Linked DNA regions of Homo sapiens: region 2 is linked to region 1. The links come from fine-mapping of genetic effects on gene expression. A gene starts in region 1. The other region holds a variant in brackets. All regions are shown on one strand. Distances are between the middles of the regions.

What was found.
Region 2: its variant is fine-mapped to the expression of SRP54 in stomach (GTEx, PIP above 0.99).

What each region holds. Positions count from the first base shown.
Region 1 is chr14:34,981,360-34,984,271 of GRCh38, forward strand. It overlaps SRP54 (signal recognition particle 54), which reads left to right and starts at 1,633. Exons shown (of 16, transcript NM_003136.4): 1 at 1,633-1,856. It overlaps SRP54-AS1 (SRP54 antisense RNA 1), which reads right to left and starts at 1,207. Exons shown (of 5, transcript NR_151701.1): 1 at 1,065-1,207. RefSeq lists enhancers at 784-833, 952-1,653, 1,044-1,133, 1,314-1,813, 1,844-2,103.
Region 2 is chr14:34,926,400-34,929,311 of GRCh38, forward strand. All of the region lies in intron 2 of SRP54-AS1 (SRP54 antisense RNA 1), which reads right to left. Among named protein-coding and RNA genes, the nearest start is that of BAZ1A, 52 kb to the left of the region's middle. The variant G/A (reference allele first, on the strand shown) is at 1,190.

The DNA of each region.
Region 1 (2,912 bases):
CATTTCCTCAGTTTTAACGTGTGTGTTTAAAGAGACAGGGTCTTGCGTCGCTCAGGCTGGAGTGAAGCAGCGGGATCAAAGCTCACTGCAGCCTTTTTCTGTCTATAAATCTTCAACACTTGGCTGCGCTGCAATCTCTCTGAGCCTGCCCGATTCGTGAATCATTCTTTGCTCAAAATGTTAAATTTAACTTGGCTAAGGTTTTTCGTTTAACACTTCCTACTAACGCTACAGCCTAAAACCTCTCCTGCAAAATGCTTTTTCAGGTGGCAACGTACCAATTCTAACAAGTTTGTGGGAGTAATGGGGAGGAGGGCTAACCCTCTATTTTCTTTCAGAAAAAGGGTTAGGCACAAGGAGCTCTAAAGGCTTGTCCGAAGTCTGCTGAAAACTCACAAACCACTCAGAACCAGGTTTCCCACACCCAATTAATTCCAAGTGGTACTGTATCCGATTACCCCCATTTTCCAAGAGATAGTTTATTTTTTCCCCTCTTTTCCCCTCCCCACTACACTTTCCACTTAGCCCTTTTTGAACTGCAAAATAACCTCTCAACTCCCCTCACCAGACCATTCTCTACAGAGCAAATTCATCTACGAGATCCAAGACGCAACTCCCACCGCCAGGCGGTCGCCTCAGAAGGGTAAGCAGAAAGCATGCCCACTTGGCCACTTTTACAACTTATTTCTGCTCAGAAATGCACCAACTCAACTACCCGGTAGATAAGGCACCAGCTAGCAGAGACCTCTTGCTCATTTCCTCTTGTACCTTATAAAATGCCCGCTTTTTTGCTCCAAAGACGAAGCGGGCTGGCTTCAGAAATAAAATCCCTCTTCTTGTATACTAGGGCTCGCTCTTGTTAATTGGTGTCTACGTGTGGCGAGCAACTAACTCTCTTTTCCGTTAGAGCACTCAAAGCCCTGGTCAATCTACCCCCCAAGACAGCAGAGACCAGCACAACGATCCCAAGGAAGGCTGTTGGCTTCACCCCGCTTAAGTCCTCAAAGTCAGCGCCTGCAGCATATCCTTGCCCCCACCACCTGCCTCTAGCTCTGGTCACTTACACTTACGGTTAGTTCGCATCCACTGTAACAGCGCCTGGCGGTCGGCAGGAGCCACAGTGCGAAGCGGCCGCAGCATCACTGCCTGCCTCGCAGTGGGAAATTTTACCTTGCTGGAGCAAGCCGCGCAGGCACTGGCTGGCATTGCGCATGCGCAAGCAGAGACCGCCCCACCCTCCGCGGAACAAGCCTCCGGTCTGCAAAGCCCTAAGCCCCGCCCCTCTACGGAGGTCTCACGTGCGCCTGGGGATCCCTGCCTTCAGTCACACCTCTATCTCTCATCTTTCCGCTCTTAGCTGGGAGTGCTCCGCCTAGTCACTTTTCTTAAGGTGGCTCGTCGAGGCCTGACTTCTTCCCCGAAATCACGTCCCTAGACAGCCTCCTATTTTACCACTAACTTTACTCCTGCAGTTATTCAGCGGTAGGAAACTGAAACCAAAAACCAGTGTAAGCAAGTAAACATCTAAACTGTTTCAGGAGCCGCGTAGAAGGAACGCGGCGGTGTGCCCCGGAAGCGGAAGTAGATTCTCCTATAGAAAGGCTGGACTACGCGGAGTGGTGACGTTTCCTCATTGGGCGGAAGGTTCGCTGGCACTCCGTTGGTCTTCCAGCTGGTGGGAGTTGACGACGTGGTGCTGGGCGTTGGGACCCTACTTTATCTAGTTCGGGAAGTTGGGTTGTGGGGTCATACCTGTCTGTCTGCTCCCAGCTTTCTTGGGTTTCTTCCGACGGCGTGGGGCCTCGCTAAGGAATTCCCGGCCCCTCAGGGCCACGGCTTTAGCGGTGTCTTTTGCGGTAAGTGTCTGCTTTTTCCCGCCCCAGACTACGGAGGGGGAGCGAGGGGCAGCCCCAGCGCTGCTCAGGAGGCGAGAGACTCCGGGGGAAGTCGGCCTCCGTGGCCACCGGCCATCGTTACCGAGACTGAGTTTCTGTGGCTCTTTATCTCGTCTTCCATGAGAAGTTTTATTAAAGATGCGCTGTGCCCCTTTTGAGTTGTCTTCCGATTTACCTGAGCCAAATAAGATGTAGGCAGTTGCAGGCCTGAGTCTTCGTTTTGCTTTCCTGAGCAAGAATTTAGATGAAGCTACTTCCCCGAAAATCCTTTTACTTGTACGAGACTTTTATTTTTCCTATGTGTTTGTAGTGCTTAACACAATGTCCTGCGTGTAGTAGACGTTCAATAAACGAATATGGAATATCAGTTGAATGCCAATGATGATTTAAGATAGACTGATAGCTCTCTCTGTACCATTTGACGCTGCTGACCATCCATTTCTTGAAACTTTCCCCTGCTGCCTTTCTTCATGCTATCCTCACCTGATTCTTTCACATGCTTAATTTAACAAAATATATACTTGTTCTTGGCTACAAGGATACAGAAATGAATAACACTAACTCTGCCATTGAGAAGCTAACGCACATAAATACACATTATATCAAGATGGGTAATGAGAAACACTAGTTGCATATAAAGAGCTGTAGAAAGCTGTGGGAGAGCTAAAGTGCTCCTTAGGTGCTTTGTGACCCTGAGCCAGTTTCTATTCCAATCTAGCCTCAATTTCCTCATCTACTTAATAGGCTTGTTTTGAGGAAGAAAGGAGATTAGGTAAGAGGTTTGGTTTGGTTTAGTGCCTAGAATACAGCAATCGTGGTGCCAAAGGGGAGGGAAATATTTCCCTCAAATCGCTTTTTCTCAGTTTTTTGATATGGCCAACTGGTATTTTCTACCTTAATATAGAGTACTATGCAAAAGCATCTTCAAGTCTTCCTTCCAGATTACTCCTCTGTCCCCATCTATTTGGAAATTCTGGACCTGCCACAGGATTACAGTAAGATAACCATAAATGTAGC
Region 2 (2,912 bases), 55 kb before region 1:
CAAAGTCATTCAAGCAAGGTCTAACTGCATCATAATCTGCTCCACAGTTTTTCATTTGGTCCACAAGTAGTTTCATGCTTTACATTCTTTGTATAGCATTTTCCAGACTACGAATATGCTAATCTTATCTGAAAAATAAAGTTAGTGTGGCTTAACCTGTTTTTGGTAAACTTAGGCTGGCTCTAAATGATCATGTCTTTTCCTTAAGTACTCTCAAATCACCTATGAAAATCCAATCTAGACTTGTTCCTGGCATTAATGTTAAGTTTGCCAGAATATGTCTTCCTTCCTTGTCAAAAATCTTGCTGTTCTGACTTTACAGTCTTTTGACCCCTCTATTCTTATAATTCCTCAACTATGAATCACTGTGATGACATAAGTAAGGAGATGGAAGAACTGTACATTATAACAAAAGTATTCTGCATATTTTAAAAATGCCATGTAAAAAAAGATTGATAAAGCAAATATTCTCTTATCTATAGCTCTCTAAACACTATTATTGTACTTATTGGAGTAAATCCCAAAATTTAGTCCAGTTTGTTGTATGTGCGTACAAATGTTGGCTAATTTAAAATACAGAAGATATATAATAGAAACTTTTCTCATTAAAGTCTTCTTAACAACAGGGAAAAATAAATATTACCTATTCCAACCTTCTGCAAAAGGTCTGGAGGTCATTACGGCCCTAAGATGTTCACTTTATCCAGGTCCCATTTTTAGTTTTAAAAAATTCATGGACGCATCACTTTGGGAAGCCGAGGTGGGCGGATCACGAGGTCTGGAGATCAAGACTATCCTGGCTAACACAGTGAAACCCTATCTCTACTAAAAATACAAAAAATTAGCTGGGACTACAGGGGCGTGGTTGCACGCGTCTGTAGTCCCAGCTACTCGGGAGGCTGAGGCAGGAGAATTGCTTGAACCCGGGAGACTGAGGTTGCAGTGAACCGAGATCGCGCGCTGCACTACAGCCTGGGCGACAGAGCGAGATTCTGTCTCAAAAAAAAAAATTCATGGACTATTTTGAGGAAATAGATGTATTCATGATCTTGACTGTGGTACTGATATGGGTGTATACATGTCAAAACGCATCAAATTATACAGTTTATTGCATGTCATGAGCTTTTTTTTTTTACAATTTTATTCTCTTAAAATTTTATTGTAAAAAGATTTAAGCCCATGAAAGAAT[G/A]AGTGAACTATAATTACATAAAACAACACAGATTAACTTCACAAACATAATGTTGAACAAAGGCTGGAAACAGGCCGGGTGCAGTGGCTCACGCCTGTAATCCCAGCACTTTGGGAGGCCGAGGTGGGTGGATCACCTGAGGACAGAAGTTCGAGACCAGCCTGGCCAACATGGCGAAACCCTGTCTCTACCAAAAATACAAAAATCAGCTGGGCGTGGTGGCGGGTGCCTGTAGTCCCAGCTACTCAGGAGGCTGAGGCAGGAGAATTGCTTGAACCCGGGAGGCAGAGGTTACAGTGAGCCGAGATCATGACACTGCACTCTAGCCTGGGTGACAGAATGAGACTCCATCTCAAACAAAAATAATAATTAAAAAGAAAGAAAAAAAGAAAGAGGCCAGATACAAGGAGTACCCCATGTGTGATTCACTCTTAAAAGATGGTAGTATAAGGCAGTCTTCTGGGGTGGTAGTGATTTTCTGTTTCTTGAGCTGGATTATCATATGGGTATATTTACTTCATGGAAATTCATTGAGCTGTGCAGTTAAGACTTGTCCACTTTTCTGTATGTTATTCTTCAGTAAAACATTTACCATGAAGAGTGAGGCACATGTGCTATAATAAACGGGAAAGAATATGAAAATCAACTGTCTCAATAAAAAATTTACAACTGATATTGCACTATAATTATGTAAGACCTGACCATTAGGAGAAACTGGGTGAAGGGTACAGAGAACCTCTCTGCACTAATTTTTCAACCTCCTGTGAATCTATAATTATTTCCAAATGTAAAAATACTATTAACACTGATATTTTAGTGTGTGAACCCCAATTAGATTTTCTTTTCTTTTTTCTTTTTTTTTTTTTTTTGAGATGAAGTCTGGCTCTGTTGCCCAGGCTGGAGTGCAGTGGCACAATCTTGGCTCACTGCAACCTCCACCTCCCAGGTTCAAGTGATTCTCCTGCCTCAGCCTCCCAAGTAGCTGGGACTAAAGGCACATGCCACCACGCCCAGCTAATTTTTTGTATTTTTAGTAGAGATGGGGTTTCACTGTGTTAGCCAGGATCGTCTTGATCTCCTGACTTTGTGATCCACCTGCCTTGGCCTCCCAAAGTGCTGGGATTACAGACGTGAGCCACCATGCCCAGCCTAGATTTTCTTTCTTTTTTTTTTTTTTTTTGGAAACGGAGCCTCACTCTGTCTTCTGTTGCCCCAGCTGGAGTGCAGTGGCGCCATCTCGGCCACTGCAACCTCCGTCTCATGGGTTCAAGTGATTCTCTTGCCTCAGCCTCCCGAGTAGCTGGGATTACAGGCACATGCCACCACGCCCAGCTAATTTTTCTATTTTTAGTAGAGACAGGGTTTCACCATGTTGGTCAGGCTGGTCTCGAACTCCTGACCTCGTGATCCGCCCACCTCGGCCTCCCAAAGTGCTGGGATTACAGGCATGAGCCACCGTGCCTGGCCCCAGCCTAGATTTTCTACTTATATCCTCCTTCTAAAAGTTTCCCTTTCCTGCCTACTCCTCAGAATTGAAGTGAAAATCATCATTTTCAATAGAGGTTGTCCCAAATATAGATGACAGTTGATAAGTCCTGGGATGGACATCTGCCCCAATGTGGGCCGGTTGGAGCCTTTTCCTGAGACATGGCATTTGGACTGAGAAACAGCCATTTCTTTTCCTGTGTCCACACTGTAATTTGTAAACTGAAGAGCTGCCAGC